Linked DNA regions of Homo sapiens: regions 1, 2, 3, 5, 6 and 7 are each reported to be linked to region 4. The links are microRNA targets in miRTarBase. Many come from high-throughput screens and were not tested one by one. Region 4 holds a microRNA gene; each other region holds the end of a gene's coding sequence.

What was found. The annotated mature microRNA hsa-miR-3617-5p reads AAAGACAUAGUUGCAAGAUGGG and lies in region 4 at 2,456-2,477, shown strand. An mRNA with a match to its seed (bases 2 to 7 or 8) in the 3' UTR can be bound and repressed. Matches are read on the target gene's strand: a 7mer-m8 pairs with bases 2 to 8, a 7mer-A1 pairs with bases 2 to 7 and ends in A, and an 8mer does both.
Region 1: miRTarBase lists NBPF15 as a target of hsa-miR-3617-5p. Seed matches in the 3' UTR shown: 7mer-m8 at 1,795-1,801.
Region 2: miRTarBase lists GXYLT1 as a target of hsa-miR-3617-5p. Seed matches in the 3' UTR shown: 7mer-m8 at 33-39.
Region 3: miRTarBase lists ANK1 as a target of hsa-miR-3617-5p. The part of its 3' UTR that is shown has no 7-base or 8-base seed match.
Region 5: the mRNA of PIGN is a reported target of hsa-miR-3617-5p. Seed matches in the 3' UTR shown: 7mer-A1 at 1,078-1,084 and 7mer-m8 at 2,670-2,676.
Region 6: miRTarBase lists FGD4 as a target of hsa-miR-3617-5p. Seed matches in the 3' UTR shown: 7mer-m8 at 3,206-3,212 and 8mer at 2,948-2,955.
Region 7: miRTarBase lists SKIC3 as a target of hsa-miR-3617-5p. The part of its 3' UTR that is shown has no 7-base or 8-base seed match.

The regions. Positions count from the first base shown.
Region 1 is chr1:144,419,659-144,423,754 of GRCh38, reverse strand. NBPF15 (NBPF member 15) reads left to right here. Exons shown (of 22, transcript NM_001385408.1): 22 at 499-2,365. The coding sequence ends at 742. Among named protein-coding and RNA genes, the nearest start is that of TRN-GTT3-1, 2.4 kb to the right of the region's middle.
Region 2 is chr12:42,083,955-42,088,042 of GRCh38, forward strand. It overlaps GXYLT1 (glucoside xylosyltransferase 1), which reads right to left. Exons shown (of 8, transcript NM_173601.2): 8 at 1-3,993. The coding sequence ends at 3,832. It also overlaps the pseudogene LOC101929308. Among named protein-coding and RNA genes, the nearest start is that of GXYLT1, 59 kb to the right of the region's middle.
Region 3 is chr8:41,657,940-41,661,939 of GRCh38, reverse strand. It overlaps ANK1 (ankyrin 1), which reads left to right. Exons shown (of 43, transcript NM_000037.4): 41 at 1-64; 42 at 376-510. The coding sequence ends at 474. MIR486-1 (microRNA 486-1) reads left to right here and starts at 1,432; the gene lies at 1,432-1,499. MIR486-2 (microRNA 486-2) reads right to left here and starts at 1,496; the gene lies at 1,433-1,496.
Region 4 is chr20:45,703,531-45,707,626 of GRCh38, reverse strand. It overlaps MIR3617 (microRNA 3617), which reads left to right and starts at 2,447; the gene lies at 2,447-2,525. It overlaps WFDC10B (WAP four-disulfide core domain 10B), which reads left to right and starts at 2,608. Exons shown (of 4, transcript NM_172006.2): 1 at 2,608-2,709; 2 at 3,066-3,130. It overlaps WFDC13 (WAP four-disulfide core domain 13), which reads right to left. Exons shown (of 4, transcript NM_172005.2): 2 at 3,033-3,183; 3 at 1,700-1,764. The coding sequence ends at 1,722.
Region 5 is chr18:62,042,141-62,046,236 of GRCh38, reverse strand. It overlaps PIGN (phosphatidylinositol glycan anchor biosynthesis class N), which reads left to right. Exons shown (of 31, transcript NM_176787.5): 31 at 258-4,096. The coding sequence ends at 381. Among named protein-coding and RNA genes, the nearest start is that of PIGN, 140 kb to the left of the region's middle.
Region 6 is chr12:32,640,075-32,644,074 of GRCh38, reverse strand. It overlaps FGD4 (FYVE, RhoGEF and PH domain containing 4), which reads right to left. Exons shown (of 17, transcript NM_001370298.3): 17 at 1-3,799. The coding sequence ends at 3,542. Among named protein-coding and RNA genes, the nearest start is that of DNM1L, 37 kb to the left of the region's middle.
Region 7 is chr5:95,461,297-95,465,392 of GRCh38, forward strand. It overlaps SKIC3 (SKI3 subunit of superkiller complex), which reads right to left. Exons shown (of 43, transcript NM_014639.4): 43 at 2,598-3,385. The coding sequence ends at 3,311. Among named protein-coding and RNA genes, the nearest start is that of FAM81B, 72 kb to the left of the region's middle.

The DNA.
Region 1 (4,096 bases), not on the chromosome of region 4:
CTGTCATTGCTGTTGGTTTTCATTGCAGTAGATGTTTAGGTTTCCATTTCTTCCTCCCCTTATCATTTACTAACGTACCATAGGTTGACCATACTTCAAAAGCTGTACTCTGATGGCCACTGCATCAAATTTTGAGCATATTTTATGGAAAACTATTGAGCTCACTCTTTTTGTGATCACAGTTTGCTGTGTGTCATGAGGGCACTAACTCAGAGTGTCCTTTTACTCCCTTACCAGTATGTCACCTGGGCAATTCACTAGCTCACTTTCTCTCTGTCTCTGTCTCTGTCTCTCTCTCTCTGTCTTTCTCTTTCATTGTTTTCTACCTGGCCCTGTTCTATCCCAACATAAAGGCAATAAATTTTTTTTTTTTACCTCATTAATGAATCTATCCTTTTTCTTTTCTAACCACTTCCTTATATTACTTCTGAAATCTAGTGGGGCTCTGTGGTGTCTGATTTTCCCTGGCTGCTTCTTTAGTTTTGTCTCCTTTTCCAGGCTCTACGGCGTGCTGATGGAAGTGGAAGAGCCTGAAGTCTTACAGGACTCACTGGATAGATGTTATTCGACTCCGTCAATGTACTTTGAACAACCTGACTCATTCCAGCACTACAGAAGTGTGTTTTACTCATTTGAGGAAGAGCATATCAGCTTCGCCCTTTACGTGGACAATAGGTTTTTTACTTTGACGGTGACAAGTCTCCACCTGGTGTTCCAGATGGGAGTCATATTCCCACAATAAGCAGCTCTTACTAAGCCGAGAGATGTCATTCCTGCAGGCAGGACCTATAGGCACGAGAAGATTTGAATGAAAGTACAGTTCCATTTGGAAGCCCAGACATAGGATGGGTCAGTGAGCATGGCTCTATTCCTATTCTCAAACCATGCCATTGGCAACCTGTGCTCAATCTGAAGACAATGGACCCATGTTAGGTGTGACACGTTCACATAACTGTGCAGAACATGCCGGGAGTGATCAGTCAGACATTTTAATTTGAACCACGTATCTCTGGGTAGCTACAAAATTCCTCAGGGATTTCATTTTGCAGGCATGTCTCTGAGCTTCTATACCTGCTCAAGGTCATTGTCATCTTTGTGTTTAGCTCATCCAAAGGTGTTACCCTGGTTTCAATGAACCTAACCTCATTCTTTGTGTCTTCAGTGTTGGCTTGTTTTAGCTGATCCATCTGTAACACAGGAGGGATCCTTGGCTGAGGATTGTATTTCAGAACCACCAACTGCTCTTGACAATTGTTAACCCGCTAGGCTCCTTTGGTTAGAGAAGCCACAGTCCTTCAGCCTCCAATTGGTGTCAGTACTTAGGAAGACCACAGCTAGATGGACAAACAGCATTGGGAGGCCTTAGCCCTGCTCCTCTCAATTCCATCCTGTAGAGAACAGGAGTCAGGAGCCGCTGGCAGGAGACAGCATGTCACCCAGGACTCTGCCGGTGCAGAATATGAACAATGCCATGTTCTTGCAGAAAACACTTAGCCTGAGTTTCATAGGAGGTAATCACCAGACAACTGCAGAATGTAGAACACTGAGCAGGACAACTGACCTGTCTCCTTCACATAGTCCATATCACCACAAATCACACAACAAAAAGGAGAAGAGATATTTTGGGTTCAAAAAAAGTAAAAAGATAATGTAGCTGCATTTCTTTAGTTATTTTGAACCCCAAATATTTCCTCATCTTTTTGTTGTTGTCATGGATGGTGGTGACATGGACTTGTTTATAGAGGACAGGTCAGCTGTCTGGCTCAATGATCTACATTCTGAAGTTGTCTGAAAATGTCTTCATGATTAAATTCAGCCTAAACATTTTGCCGGGAACACTGCAGAGACAATGCTGTGAGTTTCCAACCTCAGCCCATCTGCGGGCAGAGAAGGTCTAGTTTGTCCATCACCATTATGATATCAGGACTGGTTACTTGGTTAAGGAGGGGTCTAGGAGATCTGTCCCTTTTAGAGACACCTTACTTATAATGAAGTACTTGGGAAAGCGGTTTTCAAGAGTATAAATATCCTGTATTCTAATGATCATCCTCTAAACATTTTATCATTTATTAATCCTCCCTGCCTGTGTCTATTATTATATTCATATCTCTACACTGCAAATTTTGGGTCTCAATTTTTACTGTGCCTTTGTTTTTACTAGTGTCTGCTGTTGCAAAAAGAAGAAAACATTCTCTGCCTGAGTTTTAATTTTTGTCCAAAGTTAATTTTAATCTATACAATTAAAACCTTTTGCCTATCACTCTGGACTTCTGGATTGTTTTTTACATTCAGTGTTATAATATTTGATTATGCTGATTGGTTTTGGTGGGTACTGATGCGAATTAATAAAAACATTTCATTTCCATGTTTATTTTCTAATCTCTTCCACATTGTAGGCTATGTTTACCATACGTAGCAGAATGTATTTACATTTCTTGGTTCTAGTCATTTGTATTCTTCGTGAGTGTGAGTGTGTGTGTGTCTGTGTGTCTGCGTGTGTGTCTGTGTGTGCCTTTGGCATTTAGGAAGGGTTGTATAGCTCATGTTAAATATTGCACTAAAAATGTTTTTGATGGTTTTCCTCCCTTTGAACTAGACACACTTCTAATATTTGGTTTATAGTTTTAAATTATAACTTTCAGCATCAAATATTTCCATACAACAGTCAATTACATGATGTGTTTTCTTTTTCCTACCTCCTTTACCTGCCCCTTCTCATAATAGTATTTGAACCTAAACATATACCGTTGACATTCTGTGATTATCATCTTGCCCCTACCTTGGTTTTGGTTTTTGGTGCAGTTCCAGGCTCTTGGTGTCTTTGTTTGGGACACCAAGAGCCTGGTACTGCACGGCACCAGCTGGTAAGAATTAGGCTTTTTTGGCCGGGCGCGGTGGCTTATGCCTGTAATCCCAGCACTTTGCGAGGCCAAGGCGGGCGGATCACGAGGTCAGGAAATCGAGACCATCCTGGCTAACACGGTAAAACCCCATCTCTACTAAAAATAAAAAAAATTAGCCGGGCGTGGTGGCGGGCGCCTGTAGTCCCAGCTACTCGGGAGGCTGAGGCAGGAGAATGGCCTGAACCCGGGAGGCGGAGCTTGCAGTGAGCCGAGATCGCGCCACTGCACTCCAGCCTGGGGGACAGAGAGAGACTCCGTCTCAAAAAAAAAAAAAAAAGGCTTTTTTTTTCCCTAAGGGTTAACAACAAACCAGCCCTTTGGAAAGACTTGCTTCACCACTGTTACCAACCAACGGCCTGATGCTTTCCCTCAGTTTTGTGATTTTGACAAAACAAGCAAGCAGCATTCCCTCCTGATAAGAGACCACCGACCTAGGAATGATTCTGGCCAGACTAGAGAGGATGCACAGTGAGGGTTTTCATGTCCTCTGCTTCAGCTTTTGATGTCAGAGGGCCACAAACTCCACTCTCAGATGATTGCTAATGCCACCATTTTATGAACATGGACCCCATGGAGAGGCACGAAGCTCAATTGCACTTCTGCACATTTTTCCTCCTATAAATATTGCTATTGGAATATTATTTGGTACGGCTCCCGTGAAAGATACATTTGCAGAATGTACTCAAATTAGAAGCATCATGTAAAGCCTATAATGTAGCGATAGTGCATCAACTTCCCTACACTATAGAAATATCTGCGGTGTAGACATTTCCACAATGACCAGATATGTGTACAACAAAGGTGGCTGCAGCATTCTTTGTAATCCTAAAACAATGAAACCTACCTCATCTCAAAAACTTTATTTTTTTATTTTTATTTTTTTTTTGAGATGGAGTCTCGCTCTGTTGCCCAGGCGGGAGTGTAGTGGTGCAGCCTCCACTGGTGCAGCCTCCACTGCAGCCTCCACCTCCCAGGTTCAAATGATTCTCCTGCCTCAGAATCCCAAGTACCTGGGATTACAGGCACATGCCACCATGCCTGGCTAACAAAAACATTTTGAAAAGGGTTAAATAAATCATGCACAAACTGAGGAAAAATACTCTTCAAAAATGATGGAGAGGATCACTATGATGATGAATGATTCCACTGGTCACATTATTGATAGAGCAATCAGTAAATCCAGGCACATCCTC
Region 2 (4,088 bases), not on the chromosome of region 4:
CTAGCTCACAAACTGGGATCCACTAAAAAAAAAAGACATAAAATGTTGAATTGGCACTAAATGATCAGTGAGTAGGGTGATTGGGAAACAACTCTAGTACTAACAAACCAAATACAGCAGGCCCTGCTGCCCCATTCCATGGAAGTCAGCACCTTTCCTGACCCCAGAGAGCCCAGGCAAGCAAACTGATGTAGTGTGAGGGCTACAACTCAAAAAGTAAATGTTTCCACACCATTTCTCTCCATCTCTACTTCTCAATTTTCCATACACTCATTCCATCTTTTCTCTTACTCTGCCCTTTGCCATCCCCATTCTTACTCCTTTCTCTTTCCTCACCCCTTTTCTCACTTCCTCTCTTTTCCTTCTTTTTTGATTTAGTTACATCATTCTTTTCTTCTCTACTTTCTCTTCCTGAAAAACTCTTCCTTACATAAACAAATTCATACTGGAGATATATGTCAGAAAACATTCAGCCTGAGTAAACTGAACGCTCTGTACAGAAAACAACGAACAAAACAGAACTTCAACAGTAACACTGGCGTGGCATAATATAAGCCACGCAAAATGCTTCCAAATCCATTATCTCTTCTGAGTTTCATCTTGTGAGGTTTGAAGGGTACACTGATTGTACTTAAAAACCTAAGGCACAGAGAAGGGTAAATAACATGCCTGAGTTACTAAAAAGAGAATCCAGATCTAGTTCAAAATCTGGTCTTCTTTTCACTATACCAATAACATCTGACTGGAGGCAAGATGAGAGAGCAATGAGTAAGCACTAATGTTATTTCAGGGCCTTAAAACCCTTATATATTATGAACTACTCTTCATTAGAAAAAAGTATGCATTTTCTTAAAGCATAAATCACAATATATATTTTTAAAGGTTTCCCAAGTTCTTTTCTACTTCATACAAATGAAGTTTGACTGCATTTTAAAGGCATCCCACTTTGGTAATACTGTAGCCCAGAGATAGTTCTGAGGTCAGAATACATAGACTCAAATAATAAATCATGTAGTTTATATAAACTGCATAGATACACTATGTTTTATGAAAGACCATTTATATGAAGATGGAATACGTTCTCTAAGTTGTCCATCTATAATTTAACCTCTCATCAACTCCAAGAACTGCATTTCTTTAGAATTCAAAAGAATTACCTTGTCTAAAGATAAATTCAGAAAATTCATTTAAAAATTATTATACATATTTTGTGATACCTTTAATTTTAGGTAGAAACAGTACCCAAAAGACAGTTTTCACTATAATTCAATTTATGGTAAAATGATCAATTAGGTCAGGTCTAAATAAACCAGATGAAGAACCTTCCAACTGATCCACAATGTAGTGTGTGTGACAGTGTAAATAAGCCACAACATGAGTGAGACCACAGCATACAGTCCAGTTGGATTAAACTGTGACCACGCTCTACACAAGTCCCAATCAATTAGAGCCCATGGGGCTGAGATTCTCCGTTCACTGAGGAAATTTTATCTTATCAAACTTACTAATATAAATTCATATCCTGTCATTAACCCCAAATGCTTCCTCTAATATTTCAAAATCACATTTATAATCCACCAAACGTGCCAAGAATTGTGGTATCCTAACTTGAACTTTCAAGTTGGCAAAATAATTTCCAGTGGTTCTCAAAGTAGCTAACATCAAAGTCATCTGAGGTGATTGTTAAAAACGAAATCATCATGTGACTTATATTCTGTTGATTCTAACAAACCAACTAGAAGATGATTTTTGAGATAATCAGGGAAATTTGCTTAAGGACTGGCTATGAGATGAAGCCGAAGGACTGCTGCTGCCTCTGTTAGGTGTGATATCGTGGTATCTACCCAAAGTGTTCACAGCAGTGAAATAACACAATGTATGGGATTTTAAGATACTTAAGCAAACAAAAAAATGACAAATGAAGCAAACATGGTAAGATAGTGATAAGTGTCAGATCTGGATGTTGAGTACCAATGCACTATTCTAGTTTTGTGTAATTTTTAAATTTCTTCATTAAAAATTGTTTTACAGACTCCCTCCTAGACACAGCATGCCAGAGTCTCCAAAGGCCTAGCTCAGGAATCTATTCTTAAGCTCCCAACAAGAATCTTACATAGTCAGGCAGGCAATGATCATTATTTGAGGACCATTAGAAATGATCTAATACATACCCTCCAAACTTCACATTTTTAGTATTCTCATTTTCTACTCAGTAAGCTCAATTTCACAGTTTCTTATATTCACCATGGCATTCTGCCAAGGAACTACAACTCGTGTTCTCTAAACCCATCTGTTCTAAGAATGCTGGACTGGTTATCAACTTCTAATGCACCCTGCTTAAACTTTCCTCTCTCAATTTGTCCCTGACTGAACTGCAGACGACAGAACAACTGTACTAACCATCTCTTTCTGCATATTCCATGTCTCCACAGAGGTCACTGTGTCTTCACAAAGCTAACTGCCACAATTTTCACAGGTTGTATTTTTCCTTCATGATTTTCCATTTTCTACTTGAGCATTAAAATATCAGGGAGAAAAAGAAGATAACCATATAGATAATCATATTGTTGGTAAAATAAGATATGTGCCCCAGCATAGTATATGCTAAGTATTCAGAATCTATAGTTATATTAGCTAACAGGTCAAGAATGCCAAAGAAGTAATTTCTCAAGATTTAAAAAAATTAACTGTCTTAGGTGATATTCAAAAATGCACATCAACCCAATTAAAACCACATTTTCTACAGCTGGATGTAACAATCTTATTCCAAATCATCCACTTAAGTTGTTTAACTTACTTAAAGTAAGGCTCTAGACATTTGCTTCTTCAAAAGTATCTTGCAAGGCCGTTATGAGGTAGAAGACAAGTTTAAATGGACCATATTTTTCTACTCCATTGTAACTAAAATTACTACTCACAGGAAGTATATAGCTTATGCATTTTGGTCCATCACACTTTCCACCATCATGAGTATACTCTTAAGGTTCTCACTTTACCATCAGCATAATATATTTTGCTTCCAGAATGCCCAGTAAAGCTGACGTTTTTCATTTAAAGTGATTAAAAAAAAATTCCCCAAATATCTATTTAACAATCTTAGATCTGAGTTTTGGCAAGACAGTTTAATGCATACAAAATGAAACACTACATTTCTCACTCTCTCTCACACACAAACACGCACACACAGATTAAAATCCCAAAGTTTTCACTATTTTTCCTCTACCTTACACAGCTCAATTTTTAACATGCAGCTTACTTGTAATCTAAAAATAATTTTAAACATGATTGTCATAAAAATATTTTAAAACAGAGATGAAATGTATAAAGGCACACATAGATTGTCAATGGTTACATCAGTTACATCACATTTCTTCAGAAACAACAGACCTGTTTCTGCTCCTGTAAACAAACTTTTTTCTCACACTTTTAAAGTGAGGTTAGTGCTGACATAAAATTATTGCTCTACTCACAGTCTTGAGTGTTGGCACTGTTTGAGGTACATTTTCTCCATCTACACACCCCTACCACTCTTGAGAGTATGAGTCAACAGAAGTCTGCAGGTTAAACCCATTCAATAGTATTTTCATCAATACTGGAATGATAGCAAGTAACATTACAAAACATCAGAGATAAAAAATGTTCAATGTTGAGGCCCAAGATTTTAACTTATTCTTCATTACCTGAAAATACTGCTTACTTAACTTCTTTAGGAAAAAAAAAATTATTCTGGAGATGAGTAATTCCTTCCTGAATACTTCATCCAAGACGATTCCTTCACACTTATCTTCTGATTCTTTGTTTTCATCCATTTGATTAAGCAGTCACCAAGAATCACTTTTCCTTTGGTGATCTGGCATAACGATCTCTTACACTTTTTGCTAGTTGTTTGATAAATATTTTGTAAATTTTTCCACAGTATGTATGCACTGTTTTTTGTAGTTCCAGTTCTAAAGGTTTTAATAAGGAACGGATGTTGTCATCTTCAAAAGAACACTAGAGAAAGAAAATTTTAAAAAATAAAAAATTTAAAAGGCAAAGGTACATATGTAAGTTCAATTATTTTCCAAACTTCTTCAATCAGTTTAATA
Region 3 (4,000 bases), not on the chromosome of region 4:
CATTCGCAAGGTGGTTCGACAGATAGACTTGTCCAGCGCCGATGCCGCCCAGGAGCACGAGGAGGTGACTGTAGAGGGGCCCCTGGAGGATCCCAGTGAGCTGGAGGTCGATATTGATTACTTTATGAAACACTCCAAGGTACTGAGGCGCCCGCGGCCCTGGGGGACCCAGCGCCATCACTGCTGCCTTGCTCTGCCGGGCCGTCTGCATGACACCTCCCTCCACTCACCTCTTTATGAGCTCTCTCTCCAGTCTCTCTTCTCCCTGGTGGGCAGTGTGTCTGCCACCTCCGTGTGGCCTCCTTTCGATCTTCTGCCTGTGTTCTGCCCGTCTTTGCGATCTGTCCTGCTTTCTGTCTCTGCTGCTGTCTGCAGGTGGAGCTGAGAGGGAGTGGCCTACAGCCGGACCTGATAGAGGGCAGGAAGGGGGCGCAGATAGTGAAGCGGGCCAGCCTGAAAAGGGGGAAACAGTGACCCCGAGCCGCTCTCCTTGGAGTAGCCTCTCGGGAGGTAACGCTGCCCTTCTCATCCCCTCTGCATGGCCTGGTCTTCAGTGGAGTGGCTGCTCCCTGTCTCACCCTATCCCCTCCCAGCCACCCCAGCATGATGTGGGACAAACAACTTGTTGTTGTGTCTCGAGGCAGAGATTCTCACTTCCCAACCCTGCTAACAGTTGGCTCTGAACCCCAGCTTCCTCATCAAGGAAACAGAGTTAATAATATCCACTTATCAGGGACCGCACGGTTTTGTAAGAATGCCTTTTGGGCCGGGCACAGTGGCTCATGTCTGTAATCCCAGCATTTTGTGAGGTCGAGGCAAAAGGATTGCTTTAGGCCAGGAGTTCAAGACCAGCCTGGGCAACAGAGCAAGACCCCATCACAAAAAAAAGAAAAAAAAAAGCCAGAAAGAAAAAAATGCTCTTTGAAAAGTAAAAGCACTCTGTAAATCTAAGTGGTAATATTATCTTGGAAACCAAGCAATGGGGATCTAGAAAGCAGTGGACAGGGCATTGAAGAGGACAGGAGAGTTGGTCTGGGCTGTGATGCTTCAACATAAGAGCTCCAAGACTGAGGACTGGACTGTCTCTTGAACCTGGAGCCCAGCTACAGTTCTCACCAGGCCAAGGCTTAGCTTCTCTTTGGTGTTTTGTGAAACACGTTGCTCCCTTGCTTTCTAGGAAAGGGCTGAGCCGACAGGCCTAAGGGGTGGACGACGTGCTTTCTGCAAGTCAGGAGACCGTCAGGGTTGGGGCCGGGGCCTGGGCTGTGGTGCATGTGTGTGAGCATGGGGCAGTGTGGCCACAGAGCAGGGGCATGCCGTGCCGTGCCGTGCCATGAGGAAGGGACATGAAGACGCTGTGCGACCATCTCCAGCAGGTGTGTGTGGTGCTGGGGGCTTCAGCGGCCGGCTCTGATCTCCATCCTCCCTGGGGCATCCTGTACTGAGCTGCCCCGAGGCCCTTCATGCTGCCCAGCTCGGGGCAGCTCAGTACAGGATACCTCGGGGTGGGAGTCAGCAGGAGGTGAGGGGGCATGGTGGCCCCAGTGCAGCACTAACCAGGCCGTTACCATTCACACCCCAGGGCCTGACTCTGGGACCGAGCAGCAAGGAGGCTCTAGCTTTCTGCATTCGGCAAAAATCAGGGCCCGCTGCCTCCTGAGCCACCAAAAGTGCTGACTCTGGGCTTCCCAATATATCTCAGCACTTGGGCAAAAAAGAGGACTGGCAGATCCAGTTATAGGATAAAATTAGACCTGACACCTCAGCAGCTTAAGGAGGTCACCGTGTTAACCCCTGCACTGCCAGGGGTCCCACTAGGCTGCTGGTTTAGAAGACTCTGAGTAGCTGCTGTTGGGTCCTGGAAAGAACCCAAAGATGCAAATAATGTTTAAAAGCAGCAAAGGGAAAGGAAAAGTACACTTTTCTGACTTATTTTTCTTATGGTAGCAGTGGCGGCTGTGGCTTTAAATTTCTCTTTGGCTCAGGCTCTATGGATGCTCCTGAGTGGGAGAGAGGCAGCCCGAAAGCCAGGCTAGGGGGAAGGAGGGAGCCTTGAATTTCATTTTAATTTGCCGTAAGTGATCTGCAATGTGGCTGAAGCCCCCCAACCTCAGGTGATTAAGGACCGGACCACACTAGCATGGGTGTCAGAAACACGGAGCAGCCTGGCTCTGGGACAGCACTTGGCCCTCTGTCAGTGACAGGCACAGGGACAAGTGTGAGGGTGGCAGGGGGGTGGGGCGGTGGGGCGAGAGCAGTGGTGAGGGAGAGGCGGAGAAAAGCTCCTGCCAAAGTCCCAGAGGGTTAGGGGACAGCATTAAATGCCCTACCCTCCCAACCAGGGCAAAGGCTACAGAGAAGACGGTTGAGGGCCCAAAGGCTTCCTAATTTACTATCCGCATCCCCGACAAGCATGTACAGTCGATCCTCATCATTCACGGATTCTGCATTTGCGAATTCGTCCACTCGCTAACATTTATCTGTAGCCCCAAAGCTGGCACTCACCGTGCTTTGGCTCATTCATGGACACACACACAAGGGCAGAAAGTTTGAGTCGCCCAACCCGTGCAATCCCAGCTGAGGATGAACAATGCCACACTCTGCCTCTGTGCCTCATACTATAAATAAGTGTCCTCCTTGCAGCTTGTGTAGTGCCACATTTTTCACATTTTTGGTTTCATTGTTTAGAATGGCCCCTGAGGGCAGTGCTGAAGTGCTGTCTGGTGCGAAGTGCAAGAAGGCTGGGATGTTCCTTAAGGAGGGAATGGACATCAGATAAGCTCTGCTCAGGGATGAGTTAGAGTGCTTGTGGTGGTGAAGTCAGTGTTAATGAGTCAACCCTATATATTACATAAGGCGTCTTGAAACAGAAACGCATTTAACACAAAGTTATGTATTCATCAGTTGACCAAAATATTGTGGCCAGAGGCTCATGGGAGCCTAACCTTGTATTTCCCTTAGGAGCAGTGGTTCAGTATTTGCTAATTCCGTGTTCACAGCGACTATTTATTTATTTATTTATTTATTTATTTATTTATTTATATTTTGAGAGGGAGTCTCGCTCTGTCGCCCAGGCTGGAGTGCAGTGGCACTATCTCGGCTCACTGCAACCTCCATCTCCCGGGTTCAAGTGATCTTCCTGCCTCAGCCTCCTGAGTAGCTGGGATTACAGGCATGTGCCACCACCCTTGGCTAATTTTTGTATTTTTAGTAGAGACGGGGTTTCACCATGTTGGTCAGGCTCGTCTCGAGCTCCTCACCTCAAGCAACCCGCCCTCCTCAGCCTCCCAAAGTGCTGGGATTACAGGCATGAGCCACTGTGCACAGCCTCAAACAGCGACTAATTTATAGAACAGAGCTATGGCAAATGGCTGTATTTGTTTCAGAGAGTGAAAGCTGGAGCTTGTGAGTCTAGAATCAAGGCCTCCTCCTGCTTCCAGGTTGTATGGCCTTAAGTCATTTAACCGCCCTAAGCTTCAGTCTCCTCAAGGGAGGATGAAAATGTCCCTTTCGAATGTGCTACACTTCAAGAAAAAGGTTTAGAAATAATAATGGTAACTGTGAGCACTGATGTGAAGAGAGTAAATAAGAACATATATGCTCTGGGACTCAAACAATTGCAGGTCTTGTTTGTAGTGTGACTCGGAGCAAGTCAAATGACTTCCCTAAGCCTCAGGTTCCTTAGCCATAAACTAGCAATAATGCCAGCATTTCCCTTGTAGGATGGTTATGATGGTTGCTGAGTTTATGTTTGTGAAAGGGCTGTCTAGGGCCGGGCATAGTGACTCATGCCTGTAATCCCAGCACTTTGGGAGGCTGAGGCAGGAGGATAATTTGAGATGAGCCTGGGCAATGTGGTAGGACCCTGTCTCTACAAAAAAAGTTTAAAAATTAGCTGGACATGGTGGCATACACCTGTAGTTCCAGTTTCTTGGGAAACTGAGGTGGGAGGATCGCTTGAGCCCAGGAGTTCAAGGCTGCAGTGAGCTATGATTATACC
Region 4 (4,096 bases):
GACATCAGCTTTATGTAGCTTAAAGCAATGCTTTCCATTAGAACTTTCTGTGTTCTGTATTTATAATGTGTAATATGGTAGCTACTAACCACATGTGGTTATTAAACACTTGAAATGGAAAATAAGGCTAAGGAACTGATTGAATATTTTATTTTATTGTAATTCATATGAATTAACATTTAAATAGCCTCTCGTGACCAGTGCCTACAGTATTGGATAGATCAAACTCAGATTATTAAAACAGTGATAGCCAACCTGTATGTAAGAGACCTGCCTCACTCAGGTCAACTCGAACCACATATGGTCAGTTTCTGGTAGTAAAAGAGTCTATAGATTTTTCTGAACAGTATTTCCTGCCCTGGATCAGGGGTCACTAGGTTATGGTAGGCCAAAGATAGGACACTACAAAAGACAAAGAGAGGGACTAATTCTGTCTGGAGTGAACTGGTGAAGTTTCTATGGAGTGTTTAATTTAATAGAAACCTTGAAGCATGAGTGGGAGCTCATCCGCAGCATGGTGGGCTCACCGGAGCCTGGGCAAGTGCTCATGCGTCTAAACTGCTCCACTGGCCTCCACCTGCTACTATTTATCACGCTCCTTTGTACAGGGTTAATAAAAGGACTAAGCTGAAAGACCACCATTCTAATTTGGAACATCTGGAGACATCAGAAGGCCCATTAGAAGACCCTAAACTTCTAACTTTTTCTTTCAAATACTCTGAAACGAAATCCACCAACTTATGAATACTATCATTTTTTTGGTGGTGGAATTCCACAGGACTCCATTTTGTTCACCATTCTTGAAGCATCAGTAAAATAATAAAGATGATTCCCACTCCCTCTTTTTTTTTTTTTGAGACGGAGTCTCACTCTGTCGCCCAGGCTGGAGTGCAATGGTGCACTCTTGGCTCACTGCAACCTCTGCCTCCTGGGTTCAAGCAATTCTCCTGCTTCAGCCTCCTGAGTAGCTGGGATTCCAGGTGTGCACCATCACACCCAACTAATTTTTGTATTTTTAGTAGAGACAGGGTTTCACTCTGTTGGTCAGGCTGGTCTTGAACTCCTGACCTCGTGATCCGTCCACCTTGGCCTCCGAAAGTGCTGGGGTTACAGGTGTGAGTCACCATACCCGGCCCACTCCCTCTTTTTTCAGAGAAAAAACTGGAACCTGAATGAGTGACCTTGTAAGTGAGTTGCTGGCAGTTTCTACCTTTGCAGAGACCAAGTTCTTCCATCTACATGGCCTTGTGTTGTCCTCCCAATACCCCAAGGCATGGATGTTTTCTTCATATTTCACATGAGGGAGGTGACTGTCTCAGAGAGGTACAGTGAGCAGACCAAAGTCTCAGAGCGTGAAGGGCTCAGCTTGAGTCCCTGCCCAGGGTGCTGTCAACCCGGAGGCTAGAAGAGCTTGTTCCTTGACAAAGCCTCAGATCTGAGTGCCCTGGGTTCCCCCTGGGCCATGACTTGGTTCCTTACATTGCTCTGTGTTGCAGAATTCATGCTGGACTGCACCGTGCCTCCCCCAGGGAGTGCAAAGATAGCCCTTGGAGGGGAATGATGGAGGAGGAGGCAATCAGGTAATGAGAGGCCATTCTGAGCTTGTGGGAATGTAGTGCCCCTGGTGAGGCTACAGGAAGAAAGTGAGCATCCCTGGGAATCTCACATGAGGAAGGCGAGACCAAATCCCTGTACTTACAAAATGATCTAGGAAATATGCCTCAGTTGGCAGGCATGATGACTTCTGAGCCCTTGTGTTTGATTCTGTAGAAGAAAAATATTTTCAAATATTAACTAGTGAAGTTTTACTTTTAGAGATATATATTTTTCTTTCAATTACTTCCACCATTAATATTAGACCATGAAGCTCATTTCTCTTGCCATAGGGAAGGCAGAACCTCAAAAAACTCAATGACACCAAAGAGTTATATTTATGCTTCTGCATTCCAATGTAGAGCATTGAAAGATGTGGAATTTAATTGCAAGGGCTAGTCTCTTCAAAGAGAAGTGGTTGCCTAATCCCCAAAATTCACAGCAATTATGTTGGCAAGTAATGTTTTAAAGCTTACATGGATTGTCTATTTTAACCTCACTATTATTGTTCCAGTCTTAAGGATGAGGAAGTTGATGCCCAGAGAGAGGTTAATTAGCTTGTCTAAGATCACTTAAGGTCACTTAGCTAAGAAGCCAGGATTTGAGCCCAGGTGTTTGGCTTTGAGCCCATGCTTAATCACTCTGCACATTATCTCATGCTGGGTATTCTGCTCATGGTAGGGAATACAGCAGGGAACAAGACTGCCAGGCTTCCCTCAAAGGGCTCATTGGTTGAGTCTTCCACTGTGAGTCTTTTGAAATTTCATATGGGCCTTGCAAAGCAGGAAAAAACAAGAGTACTTATTTTACTCATGAGAAAAAGAAAGTAAAAAAGAGGGAATTGTCTTACTCAAGGTCATAGAAAGACATAGTTGCAAGATGGGATTAGAAACCATATGTCTCATCAGCACCCTATGTCCTTTCTCTGCCCTGGGAGCACACTCCATTTAGCAGGCTTGCGGCTAGTGTTAATGTCTGGACAATTAATCAAAACTTCCTTTGGGCTGGATCTCCAGAGCCCAAGAACACTGGTGGCCAAAGGATGGTGTCTTGTGAAAGGAGGGCAAGCAAAAGTGTAGGACAAATTTTGCTTTGGGATTTTGGTTACACCTGCAGGTACAGTGTCCCTGGGATAAGGGTGGATTCTGGGTCGGGGGAAGGTCTGTGGATAAAGGCATTTGTGGGTGTGTTCAGAGAGGCAGAGTCAGAAATTCACGGATATGGTGATGGGATGTGGTGATTGGGAGGGGAGGAGGGCTTTTCTAATCAGGACTTTTATGGAAATTATCCTTGGTCAAGAGAAGGGGCATGTTGGCAACATGGCCACCAAGGAAAAAAAAAAAAAAGGAGAGATCCAGCACAGTTGCTGGTAAGGGACTCTTCTGCTGGGCTCCCACCAGCAGCTCTAGGATCAGACCTGGATATGAGATATCTCTTACCTGTTGCGCTTTTGAAATGTTTCTGATGAACAGACTATCCCACAGAAGGAGGAACAGCACTGAAATCCTTTCTCGCAATCTTCCTGCATTGTACACAGGTGAGTACAGTTTTCAGGTGCTGATATGCAGGGTGGAGGTTCCAAGATATACTCTGGAACACAGAACAAGTAAGAGAAGGGCCTCACCAACAGGCTGGAGTAATGTTCAGAACTCAGAAAGCCCAGGGAACTGCCAGGAAACCTGCCACCCTCATCTGCCTTGCATGGTTCCAGGGTGGTGGCATCAGGTTTTGTCCTCAGCTGCTGCCTTCCTCTGAGTTCTGAGCAGGGAAGCAGGGCATGGATATTTTTTGATCAAGAACAGAGTTTGGTAGAACCCTGCACCCATTGGTCATTCACCATCCTTGTAGTTCAGATGCCAAGCCCCCATTGACTATGGTTGTGTCCATATCAAGGGTATCAATGGTGTATGTGGTGAACAAGAAAGAGGTTTGTATGTTCGTTCTGCACTGATTCATTGTGTGGTCTTGAGCAAGTTGTAGAGCTTCTCATTAACAACATAGTTTACCCTGGGGTTAACCTAACATGGGTTATTTGTGTACAGGAAGAATGAGTGAAAGGTAAGTTTTGGTAAAGGATGAAGACCATGCATTAAACTGAAGGTACTGGATCAGAGAGCTGGGACCCAATTCACAAGTAAGTTCTGGGAGTGACTTCTTTCATGGTAAGAAGGGTGGGGATTTCAGAATGGCGTTCAAAGATTCAGCTTTTTTCTTCCTTGGTGTCTCTCGATCAGGAGGCCAGAGCACCAGGATGCCCCACTTTCTACTGTTAGAGAAGAATAAGCATCATTATGTTGACTTCCTATTTCCTCCCCTACCCCCAAGTATTTCAGTTCAAAGCTAAGACCTACCTGCCCTGGGAGAGTCTTCCCTAAGTCCACAACCCACAATCTCCTTTCTATTCCTGGACTCTAAAGATGGGCCCCATTAATCCCTTTCCCCAAGCCCTTCCAGGTCCTAATTTTTGTACCTTGTGATTCTCCCTTTCTTTGGGGGCAAAAGT
Region 5 (4,096 bases), not on the chromosome of region 4:
TCAGGGACTTGAGCATTCAAAGATTTGGGTATTCGTGGAAGGTCCTGGAACCAGTCCATGGACAGCTGTACTTGAAGGTCCTGGAACCAGATACCAACAGACAGCTGTACTTAGCAGGAGGAATAAGGTAAAGAACACCCACTCCAGCTCCTGAAAGTGGAGATTTTCATCTGTCCATTTAAAACCATTCAGAGGAATCTCATGATTTTCCTCACCTGTGTTCTCTCTGCCTGTAACATCTTTTTCTCCTTTTGCAGCATCAGCCACTATGTGATTGTCATGTCCATGACCATCTTTTTGGTGTTCCTCAATGGCCTGGCCCAGCTGCTCACAACGAAGAAACTCAGACTATGTGGCAAACCCAAAAGTCACTTCATGTGAGGTTGCTGAAGCACCATTCAGCATCTGGATCCTGATTCTCCTTTTAAGCTAAAATCTCATCAAGGCTTCAATAAGAAGATGGATATGGATATATAGTATATTCTACTCCTGTAAGGAAAATGGTATTTGGAATTCCGAATTGACAGGTTATCTGGAACAAAGGAGCTTCTTTTTTTTTCTAGGTTTTGCAGGCATGAAATAGTGATTATATCTGTGGAAAAGCATAGGAAGGCATTCTCCTTTTTCATTTTTTTCCTTTGGCTGGCAGCTCTTCCCAGTGATGTTGAGAGCACCTGCAGCAATCTGGTCCCCAGTCGCACAACTTCCCACATACCCAGAGGAGAGCATATGCCTGTGGGGGCAGTGCTGATGGCATCCAGAGTCATTGCTGTGGCTGAGCTGGAAGGAAATCACCAGGTGCCACCGTCAATATTTATCAGCTTTCAGCACTGGTTTTGTTAGACAGTCAGGGTGTATTATTTCAAGAGCTTCAATAAAAAAAGTGTTTGCAGGTATTTGTCATATTTCTTTAGTATGCAATAATGCTATCTTATCCTTTTTAGTGCTATTTCTCAGGTTTTCTCAGTCAACCAGCTAGATGCATGTGATGCATGTCTATCCTTCACTTTTTTTTTTTCATTTCTGGATTTTCCTGGGATTTCTGACAACACAAAAGTAGAAAGTGCTTGGTATTTCTGTCTTATACATAGGAAAACATTTAAAATAAATAGTTTTTAATTGTAGGCTCAACATCTGTTACCCCATAGCTTTTTCGTATATTGTTTCTTTCCCTTTGAATTTCTTTTTACTGTCATCTATTATTTTAACAGGAGTTAAAATAACTCCTGTTAAACTTTCTGACAATATCATAAGAATTCATATTAAAGGTGTTATTCTTTCTGGTTGTGAGATTCTAGCACAAAGGCCTAAAATCATCAAATTAGATTTCCATTTGTAAACAAATTCTAATGGGCAAAATATCTTGAGAGCAGTTTTTATATGGATTATCCATAAAATGACCTTTACATATCCCTGCAGAGTTGGCCTTTTGCCCGTGGTGTGCTAGTAGCTTTGGCTGATGCTAAGCTTTCCTGGTATGCGCCCTATTTTTAAGAAGTAATTGCTTTTGAATTAAGTTATAGCATTACTAATTCATGTTAATGACTAGGAAACCCTCTGTAATTTACAAGATTTTTCAAATTGGTGGGGAGTGAATAAATACAATTTAAAAGTCAGAAATCAGTTTGGCAAAGTGTACTTTCTTAATTTCTATTTATGATGAAGTATAGTCATAATTTATTTGTAATACTACTTTATGGTATACCAGTGAAAGAACTGTAGTATAAAAAAGAGGTATTAATGTTTTATGAAATCTCATGCATCAGTTCATAGCATAAAATCTAGCTGGACAACTAAGAAGCTATGGTAGCAAACAGTGATGTTGATGGAATGAGAATCATGAACTTTCATATTACCTCAAAGGATTTTTTTATCAGTTTTTTTCACACATCAGAAAAAACTGACTGTATAAACACTTATCACTGACCTTTTTCTATGTGTAGTTTTGCCTTTTATCTTTTCCCAAATTTTTATAAAGAGAAATTAATAAATATTTTATTACAACATTGTAAAGGGTGCTCAGTTTTTTTATCTTTCTTTATTTTGCTCTTTGAGGCATATCTTTTTCTTAATTTTGTCCTTTCAGGTCAGTGTGAGTCTGTAGAATAGGTTGAACTTCCTTCTGACAGTATCATAGAGTTTGTGGAGTTTGTGTTGTGTGCCTGCAGCCACAGGCTCGCCTTGCTGCACCGTAACTGGCCCCTTCAGACTCACATGGGAACAAGCCTTTTCTGTTGCAGTTTCCCAGATATCTTTAAATGTTTTGAAATGTATATTTTTATGTTGCAAAACAGAAAAAAGAAACGAGTTAGGGAAAAAGTATTTCTATTTAAGGTATTTATTTTTTCATTCTACCTATGCCATAGATTTCTGAATCAAGACTTAGGACATTTGCTGATTAACAATGTTTAAATTAGGAATTGTTATAAGAATTAAAATAGGCAGAACAAGTTGTGAAAATATTGAACCAAAAAAAGGCCATGCTATCATCTTAGAGGGCCCATGAATAAACCTTAGAGGGAATCCTAAGGCTTTAGGAAACCGCTGCAGCTTGTCTGTCATTTTCCAATATGTTAATTATTATACTTAGTGTACAGTATTTAGAATACAAAATGCTTTTTTATTTTTTAGGAAAATAATGTTATAAATGATTGTATATTTTCATAGTAATGTCTTTATAATTATTTATTAATGATAGAGCTGAATTAGAAAAGCTCTTCATCCATTATAATATGGTTTCTCATGAAAAACTTATTACAAATTTCAGCCAACTCAGATATTAAGAACATCAGTGTCAATCCTCCTCCCCTCCTGCGACCTTTTTACACTTGTTTTGGTGGACTAGGGGCTCCTTTTCTCCTCCTTTTTGACATATAACTGTGCCATTAAAAACATGATTTCTGATGAAGCTGGCCTAGAGGGAATGAAGGAGATTGCGTGGGTATGGTCTCTAGGACAGGCGTAGCTGTTGCAGGGCCACCCTGTCCTTGGGAGAACCTGGTGAGCTCCCATATTCACACTAGATGCCATCATGTCAGGGGGCTGAAGAGAATGGAGCTAATCAACTCTGTCATTTGGAGAAGACCCCCTTCAGACCAGTTCTGAGAACTCCTTCTTTTAAGAGACCAGAGATAACTTGATCATTTCTCACCTTTTCGTAGTTGTTCTTTTTTATGTTGACATTCCCCTTACTGTTTTTAAAATGCTTCAAAGCATTAATGATTGTTATGCTGTGTGCTTTCAGTACTATGGCAATATCTTTGTAGCATTTTCCCATTTCTGTATAAGCATGGTTTTTTGTTTTTTTTTTTTTCGTTTTTGTTTTGAGACAGGGTCTCACTCTTGTTCAGGCTAGAATGCAGTGGCACCATCTCAGCTCACTGCAACCTCTGCCTCCTGGGCTCAAGTGATCCTGCCACCTCAGCCTCCTGAGTAGCTGAGACTACAGGCACATGCCCCCACACCTAGCTAATTTTAAAATATTTTTTGATGGAGACAGGGTTTCACTATGTTTTCCAGGCAGCAGCATTTTTTTTTGACTGGGATTTCTTTATGATGCTTTGTTATTTAAAAAAAAAATGAGAAGGAAACATTAATAATCAAAATTATCTTTAATTGGCCTCACAGGGCTAAAATCTAGAATTATTATTACTCTTGGGTAAACTCATGAAAAGTACTTAATATTCATTCTATAAAGAAACAAAAAGAACCTTTGAGATGTGTCTCTTATTCATTTCCTTGGGTACACTTAAAACGGGTTACAGTTACTGCTCAACTTTCTACCTTCAGAACTGCAGCATTTATTTGCCACACAGCAGCATTTATCAGAGATTGTCCCTTAGAACATTGGTTCCTTGTAATACAAATAAATGTCATAATAAAAATAGTTTCTTTTTTCTTTCTTTCTTTTTTTTTCAAGACAGACTCTGGCTCTCTCGCCAAGGCTGGAATGCAGTGGCGCAATGTCAGCTCACTGCAAGCTCCGCCTCCCTGGTTCAAGCGATTCTTCTGCCTCAGCCTCCTGAGTAGCTGGGATTACAGGTGCCCACCACCACGTCTGGCTAATTTTCATATTTTTAGTACTGACAAGGTTTCA
Region 6 (4,000 bases), not on the chromosome of region 4:
CAAATATCATATGATATAGGAAATCTTCATTAATCTATTCTGCATTATAGCAAAGATACCTATAAAACCCAAGACGCTTGTTCCCTAGAAGTTTACTTGCTCCGGTTGGTGCTTGCTACTCAGGTTGTATCTAGTCCAGAAAGATCATCAGAAATTTATCACAGACAATATGCTCAGATTAAGAACTTAAGGCTTTGAATATAACCAGAAAACAAATAAAAGCAACCACCCTGTTTCCAAAAAGTAAGGACAAGGAAAAGTAAAACAGAATTGTGAACTCAAAAGTATTTTTGACAAAAGTTTTTAGAAGGCATCAAAGAATCTTTAACAACCCTGCAGTACCACAAACTTTATCGTTTTCTTTATATATTTATAACTAGAACAAGTGTTCTTAAAAAAAAAAAATCCAAACGTGTGCGTATATATATATGGGGAAAGGGTACATTTAAAAGGTTAGTTTCTGTAAAAAGTTTAATAATTTTTAAAAAAATTGGGGTAAGTTAAGTCACCTAGTGAAGATAAGTACACAAACCTGATGTCAAATTAAACTTCAGGGAAAACAAAATGTGCTTTTTCTATCCATTTTCTTTGTTAAAGTAAAAATGTTCTTGATAGTTATTTAAAATCCAAGGAATGATGCCCCTTCCCATTTCCCTTCCTTATACTCTGCAATTCGAATTACCGTATCACATCTAGAAAGTTAATAATTATCTATATTCTTGTGGGAAGGGGCCTTCATATTAAATTTTCAGTATAAAACCATACCCTAAAGAGTTTTATTGCTTGCATACATGATGACACTGTGATGCCATTATTACAAAAGTGGCTGGTGTTTTTTATTGAGCCCCACTTAAAACCAAGATAAAAGTCTGCACTATATTTCATACTTAACACGCCAAATGGTAGGCTTTCAGCAAAAGCAAAATTTAAGCTTAAAATATTGAAATGTTTTATAATGAATAGAAATTTTGTCAAGGAAGTACTTTTTAAAGTTTGGAGGAAGGGCACTTTAAAGAAAAGATGACTTGGAAAGCACCAAATGAGTGAAAATAAAGAATTAAGACCCACAGGGAACGTTGGTTTTAATGGGAAAGCAACCAATGATATTTTTAGGTTGTCATGACTGCTCAAGTATGTTGGAAGGGAAAAGGCATTGATTATTCTTATCATCAATCACACTTTGAGGTCTCTTGGTTGAATTGTTTAATAAATGGCTAAGGGTATTACTTTACCTTTCATTGAGTAAAAACATCAGTGATTCTTTAATAAGAGAGAAGCGGGTAAGGCTGTTTCACTGCTTCTCTTTGCGTTTAGCTGAAGAATGTGGGGTGGAAAGTGAATATGGTGACCGGATAACCAGAAATTCTCTTCTAGTATTAATGCTTCTCATTTAAAAAATTAAAGATAATGACTGTTAAGAGCATGATAATAAACATTATCTTTACATGAGTATTCTTTCAATGATCTAAGTTAAATAACATTGATATTTATTGAGCCAAAACTTAAGTGTGTCCATGTTACTTCTGTTTTGGTAGGGAAAGTGTAGTCTTCTTGCTTTTAAAAATAGTTTTCAAAAATAATCTGACTTATAAATCTTCCCATTGGCCCATACATTACCATTGTTCTAGTCACACTTACAAAAGTCCTCTTCCCCAGTTAATCATTCTGTATTTCCATTGCTTCTCTTTTCTTGAGATTAAGAAAACCAAAGCATCATCTATAGCTACAGTTTAATTTTCCAAAAAACCACTCTGAGTATACATCACACACATACCCCGCTGGCCATTAAAAAAGAGAAGCAATGTAAATTTTCTTCTAGTCTTTCCCTGATTTAATAGGGCCTAAGAAGCTACTTTTATCTCTTTTTGGCTCCATCTATTTGGTTTAATGTTAATGATCATGGCTGATAATCCTTTTATGGAGGAAGGGAACCTATTATGTCAGCAATAATTGGTTCACTTGCTCCTTTGGGGTGGAAAAAATAAGATATTTCTTAAAGTAACAAGGCCTGAATAAATGTGTGGCAGTCTCAAATTCTATTCTATATCTAAGGTGTAATCCTTACATACTAAAGATAGTGGGATCATTCTTGTAGATTTCTAGCAGACTGGTACATTAAAAAGTGACAATGTTTGGGGTATGACAGTATAAAAAAAGGTTTAATTTGAGAAAAAGGATTAAGTTAAATAGTAAACTTAGTGTGAGATTTTAATCACAAGTACAAAAGAGTGAAGAGCAGCCTTCATGACAAGGAATCATGTGACCAGCCCCCACCCCAAACATAGGTTATCACATGTGGATTTTGTTTCATTCCGACAAAGGAAAAGGCCCATACAGTTATCTTAAGTGTTCATTATATAGAGACCTTATTTAACCATGCTCGATTATCTTACGGAAAAGAAAAACATTACGATAAATGTGGTTTCCACATATCCTAGTTCTGTAAAAGGTCAGGTGTCTCATAAAGTTTGGGTTTTGGTGAAAATGTTTGTACATGCTGATGTTAACTACTGCAATAATTATAGGATTGTAAACGGTAAAATAACCTGTATGACTTTGACTGTCCCAGTGACCAAAATGCACTTTAATCTTAGAATAATCAAGACTGAAGCATTAACTGAACCCTCATCTTATATTAATAGCACCTTCTAAGAGAGGCACTGTTTTAAATAGGCACAGAAACAAAAAATGGTACTTTAAAAGTACTGTTGGAATTCACAAATATATCCCATGCCACATAAATTACCGCTTATTATAAAAATATCAATACCCTCAAATGCCAATCAGCAAAACATAAATCACCAAAACATTTCTTCAGTTTAGAACATTGCTCAATTCCACGATAAACCATGCTTTATATTTAAAAAATAAATTAGAGATGAATGTGAACCTAAAAGCATGTATAATATATATATTTAATACTATATATACATAATTGCTATATACTTAAGACATTCTTAGGAGTATTTCTACAAAAACAAGTTATCTTTTCTTTATAAATCGGAAATCTGAACACCAACAATTTGTCCTTTTTCTTTTGTTTTAAAAGAACAGACATCATTTATGCAGCTAGAGATTTATAAACTAAATTAAATAAGTTAATACAATAGCCTCAACTGTCCCTGTATTTTTCACCATGGATCTATTTTGGCAACATGGAGGTATATCTTTCAAACTGTTCCAGGTCCTACATGTGAAAGAGAAGAAGACATGAAAGGATTTCTTAAATGGAAGTGCTCATTCTAACCTGACGGTGACAGAATCAATTGATACACCATTTCTTCAAGACAAAAAAGCACATATTCAAGGAATAGCTCAAAAAATGCTCCAGTTTTCACATTATTTCAAAACTTTATCGGTAGAATGACTCTGCACACTAATTTCACTAAGAGTACATAAACATAGGAAAATAGTCCTCAAAAGATGCATTTATGGGCCTATATTTTTCAACATAAAGTGCTAGCAGATGTGTAAGAAGAGCTGGGAATGTCTTGAGCTGTAAGTCCTGAGACCTCCACACCATGGCTGGTCCTGGAGGAGTTCAGCATTCTGATTTTTTCTTAGGTTCAGGATGATCATCCAAGGTGGCTGGATGCTCATTTGGACCACCTGGTGTCTCACCTGTGACAGCTAAAAGGATGACTTTCAGCCACTTCTGCTTCAGTTCCTCACTGTCTGCAGCAAAGCTGTGCACGGACTTAGACTGGGTCAGTTTGAAACTGTGTGGCAGGTCTGCGCTCCTTGGCATTTCATCCACCACATAGCCCAGAAGTGGAATGGTGGCCTGGGCTCTGACGTCCTAAAGAAAAGACATCAGACATTAAAAGCAGGTGATGTATTCGCTTGTTAAGTGTGTCCCTTGCTCCTACTAAACCTCTCTTCCTACCACTGTCCCAAACAGACTTAAACGGTGAGTTCTCCATGGGCACAGAGGGCAATCCCATTGCTTAGTACAGAGCCTGTACGTGAGGCCACTGATAATGTTAGCTGAATGAATGAG
Region 7 (4,096 bases), not on the chromosome of region 4:
TAGGCATACCAGGATTTAAAATATTGCTATTCAAAAAGTTTCTAATCCAAAAGAACGAAAAACCCACTATCGTAGCATAGGGACAGCTAGACACCATGAATGGTCTGGAGTTACAATAGATCTTATGTGACTAACTACATTTTCTAAACCAAAAATGAGGCACATACTCTAAATGAGGGAGTTTTTGGACTTTCATTTCATCTGTATAAAAAGTCTTTAAAAACACAAGTGGAAAAATTATTGTACCTGTATATAATACATAAATGTACCTTTTTAATGTACAAAAATAGAAACAAAACAAAAAAACCTCTCCTGGAAACTGAGGGTCAATTTATAACCAGCAGCTGAGTGCTATACCTTACAGCAAGCAACATGGCAGCCTGAGACATTTTCTAGCCATTAACAACTAAAGTGAGTGAAAGGAAGACCTGTAGAGACACAAGGGTCAACCTTGTCAAAACAAAGTTTCTACATTTTTTAATGTGCCAAGACAAAAAGGGATCTGCAAGCCACATTCACTCATACTCCAAAATAGGCTTCATTTTTGTATTCTTATAAAACTTTCCCAAAGGAGGTATCAAACTTTTTATGCAGCAACCAAGTATGTATACCTTCATATTCATACATTACAAACTAGTAAATATTTACCTAATGTTTTATACTGTTTTAAATAACCACATCTTTGAACTCCCTTAATGTATGAGTATTTCTATCTAATCCTATTCTGTAGAGAATTCTAAACTAAAGGAAGTTTAATAGCTCCTTTTCATAAAGTGAAAAGAGAGCACAGGATTTTAGATTGTTTTTTCCTGACCAGAAATTAAAAGGGACACTTCATGAAAAATGACAAGTGACCCCAAACAGATTATGTTCCAAAAGTTTACTTGGAAGCTGAAACATGTTTTTCCCATAGGAAATTATCAGATGCCAAACTAGTGTATAAACATCTAATTAATCAATAATAAAAAATGGATAAAAATAGCAGAAAATTCACTACAATTCTCAAACAAAATATAACAAAAGAAATACTAATATGAATATTAAATACTGGTACTTCAGGAAATAATTTTTAATCTAATTTCTCTAATTAAACTTATGTCTAAAGCTGGGCGCGGTGGCTCACGCCTGTAATCCCAGAACTTTGGGAGGCCAAGGCAGGCGGATCACCTGAGGTCGGGAGTTCGAGACCAGCCTGATCAACATGGAGAAACCCTGTCTCTACTAAAAATACAAAAAAATTAGCTGGGTGTGGTGGTGAATGGCTGTAATCCTAGCTACTCAGGAGGCTGAAGCAGGAGAATCACTTGAACCCAGAAGGCGGAGATTGCAGTGAGCTGAGATTGCACCATTGCACTCCAGCCTGAGCAACAAGAGCGAAACTCCGTCTTAAAAAAAAAAAAAAAAAAAACTTTAAACTCCCAAAAGACATTCTGGCCACTGTTTTAGAGTTTCTGGAATCTGATAACACTGATTCGTGAATTTCCTTTGCTTTAGGCATGTTGTTTAACACCATTCACCTTTATTAATTAGTATTAAATGACAATGTTAAGAACACTTAGCCTAGCTCTGGCACAAAGTAAGCTCCATAAAAATTATGTGAGCAGAAATTATCTGAGGCTCACGGTAACTGGGTGGCAATTTGAGAAGAAGGCAACGAAAGTTAAGGGAGAATGTGTGCACATAAATGCAAAAAAGAATGACCTGAGAAAGTATCAACTCAGGTGTTTTTCCAACCCTCCAGTCTAGAAAAACCTGGGTTTGAGGTCCCTGGAAGGCAGAATTTGGCAAAAAAGTCAAAAGGTTACCCTTTGATTATGGTCCCGAAGCAAAGGGTAATCTTGTGAAGCAAGTGACGCTCCAGAAAACAGATGGAGGGCAAGAACTGAATACAAAGCATTTAGGTAGATGGAGCCAACCCGTTCTGGAAGAAAAAGCTGAAGTGTTTTCCTGAGGAAACGGCATGGAGATGAGGGCTATGCAGGCAGCCTTTTGAAGTGCATCTGTGGCTAAGTCTGTGGACCAGGTTGTTAAAATCACTGAATCAGTTTGACAGTTATGAAGATAAGGAAGAAATGAGCAGAGAATGGCACGTGTTGAACCTTGCTGAAGAAATAAAGGGAAGAATCATCATTGGAGTAATATAGTAGTTTGAAAATCTGAATAAACATTAGGATTTCTTCGGCATACCTTTAAAATGCAGAGTCCTAGGCCTGTCCCCATCCTTAAAGATTCTGATTGCATGGGTATGAATGATTATAATGTTCAGCCAGATTTGGGAAACACCAGATGAAAATTCAGTTCAATTATTAACCTCTGAAGTACAACTTAACTATAGGATATTGTCAATTTATATTATCTTAAAAAGTAACATCCTGATGCTGCTGGTTTAGAAAAGCCACATACATAAATCGCGTAACCACATATTTTCTGTACAATAAATATGTAAGTGTCTGAAAATATTTTTAAAACCACAAATCCAAAGTGACAGTTTTTTCAAATATGTAAAGAGCTTAAAAAAATAGATAACTGTGCTTTCAAGTTTTAAAATTTGAAATTTAGAAATTATGTCTGATATTGACACTATAAAGAAAACAAGATGCTGTATTTTTGTTTTATTTCAGAAAGTTCAAGTCTTTCCATCATAATTGAAGGAATTGCATGATCAATTAAATATTATCAGCATTATTTTCCATTAATGTTTTTAAATGCATTCACACACCTGAGTGTTTGGAATTATATAAACATATCCATTAGAGTCTAGTCTCATCAACATTTATATTATGCTTTTTCAACAGAATTGGAGATGAATCACTAGATAAATAGGTTACAAGATTATTTGGATTTTATGATGAATTGGTTTGCCGAACTTTAGAATTCATAGCAAGAATTAAATCTTTGAATTTGATTTTTAACAAAAGAAAATTGTGCATTGTGCTAATCTACTTTTGCATATTACATAGAAAATGGCTATTAAGGCTTTATTGTAAGGGATTACAGTAAAAGATATTCTATTGTGCACCATGCAAGATGCAGAAAATAATGGTTTACAAATAATGTTAAGCAACCAAGGCAATAATGGTTTTCCTTTCATTCTGGTTTTCCCAAATTAAATTTTTTTTTTTTCAGATTAAAATCAGGTTTGGAGTTAACAGAAAATTGCATTCCTAACTTAAAAACTTCAACTTCTCTAGATTCCTTTAGAAAAGGAATAAATATAGTTTAAAAAAATGTTGCTTTGGGTAGAAGTCTTGATTCATTGCTTCATTCTTACAGCTTTTTCTTTGCTTCCTTACTATAAAATAATCCAATGTTATTGTGAGGACAATCTCTGATTCAGTTCCAATGCTCTTGTATCTCCATGAGTTTTGGCATTGTTTACCAGCACCTATGGGAAATCACATACAGGAACGTCAGTATTTTGTTTATTAACAATATCTATATTTTGATTCATTGAAGCCAAGTAATCCAAGGGCGGCAGTCTTGAAAAGGCAACATCAAACTATACTAGGAAAAGTGACTCTGTGCAATCTTTCAGTCACTTTTGCAGATATAAATTGTTTAAACGAAGCTAACATCAGAGAGATGCACAATTCATTCAAATTAGTATAGATGCCAACATTCTGATTGCTTTTTTTTTTTTTTTTTTTGGACGGAATCTCTCTCTGTCACCCAGGCTGGAGTGTAATCGTCTGATCTTGGTGGCTCACTGCAACCTCCACCTCCTGGGTTTGAGAGATTCTCCCACCTCAGCCTTCCAAGCAGCTGGGATTACAGGCGCCCACCACCACACCTGGCTAATTTTTGTATTTTTAGTAGAGATGGGGTTTCACCATGTTGGCCAGAGGCTGGTCTCAAACTTCTGACCTCAAGTAATCTGCTGGCCTTGGTCTCCCAAAGTGCTGGGATTACAGGCGTGAGGCACTGCGCCCAGCCTGATTGCTATCGTTATTAGCACTGCATAAAATTAAAGGTTTTGTTTGTTGGCTTTGTTAATAATACTGTCACCTCTAAACTCTTACTCAAAAAGACTACTTTATGCATAGAACTGTTCAAATGAAATTGTTCCTCTTTGAAACCACAGCTCAGGATCTAGGCT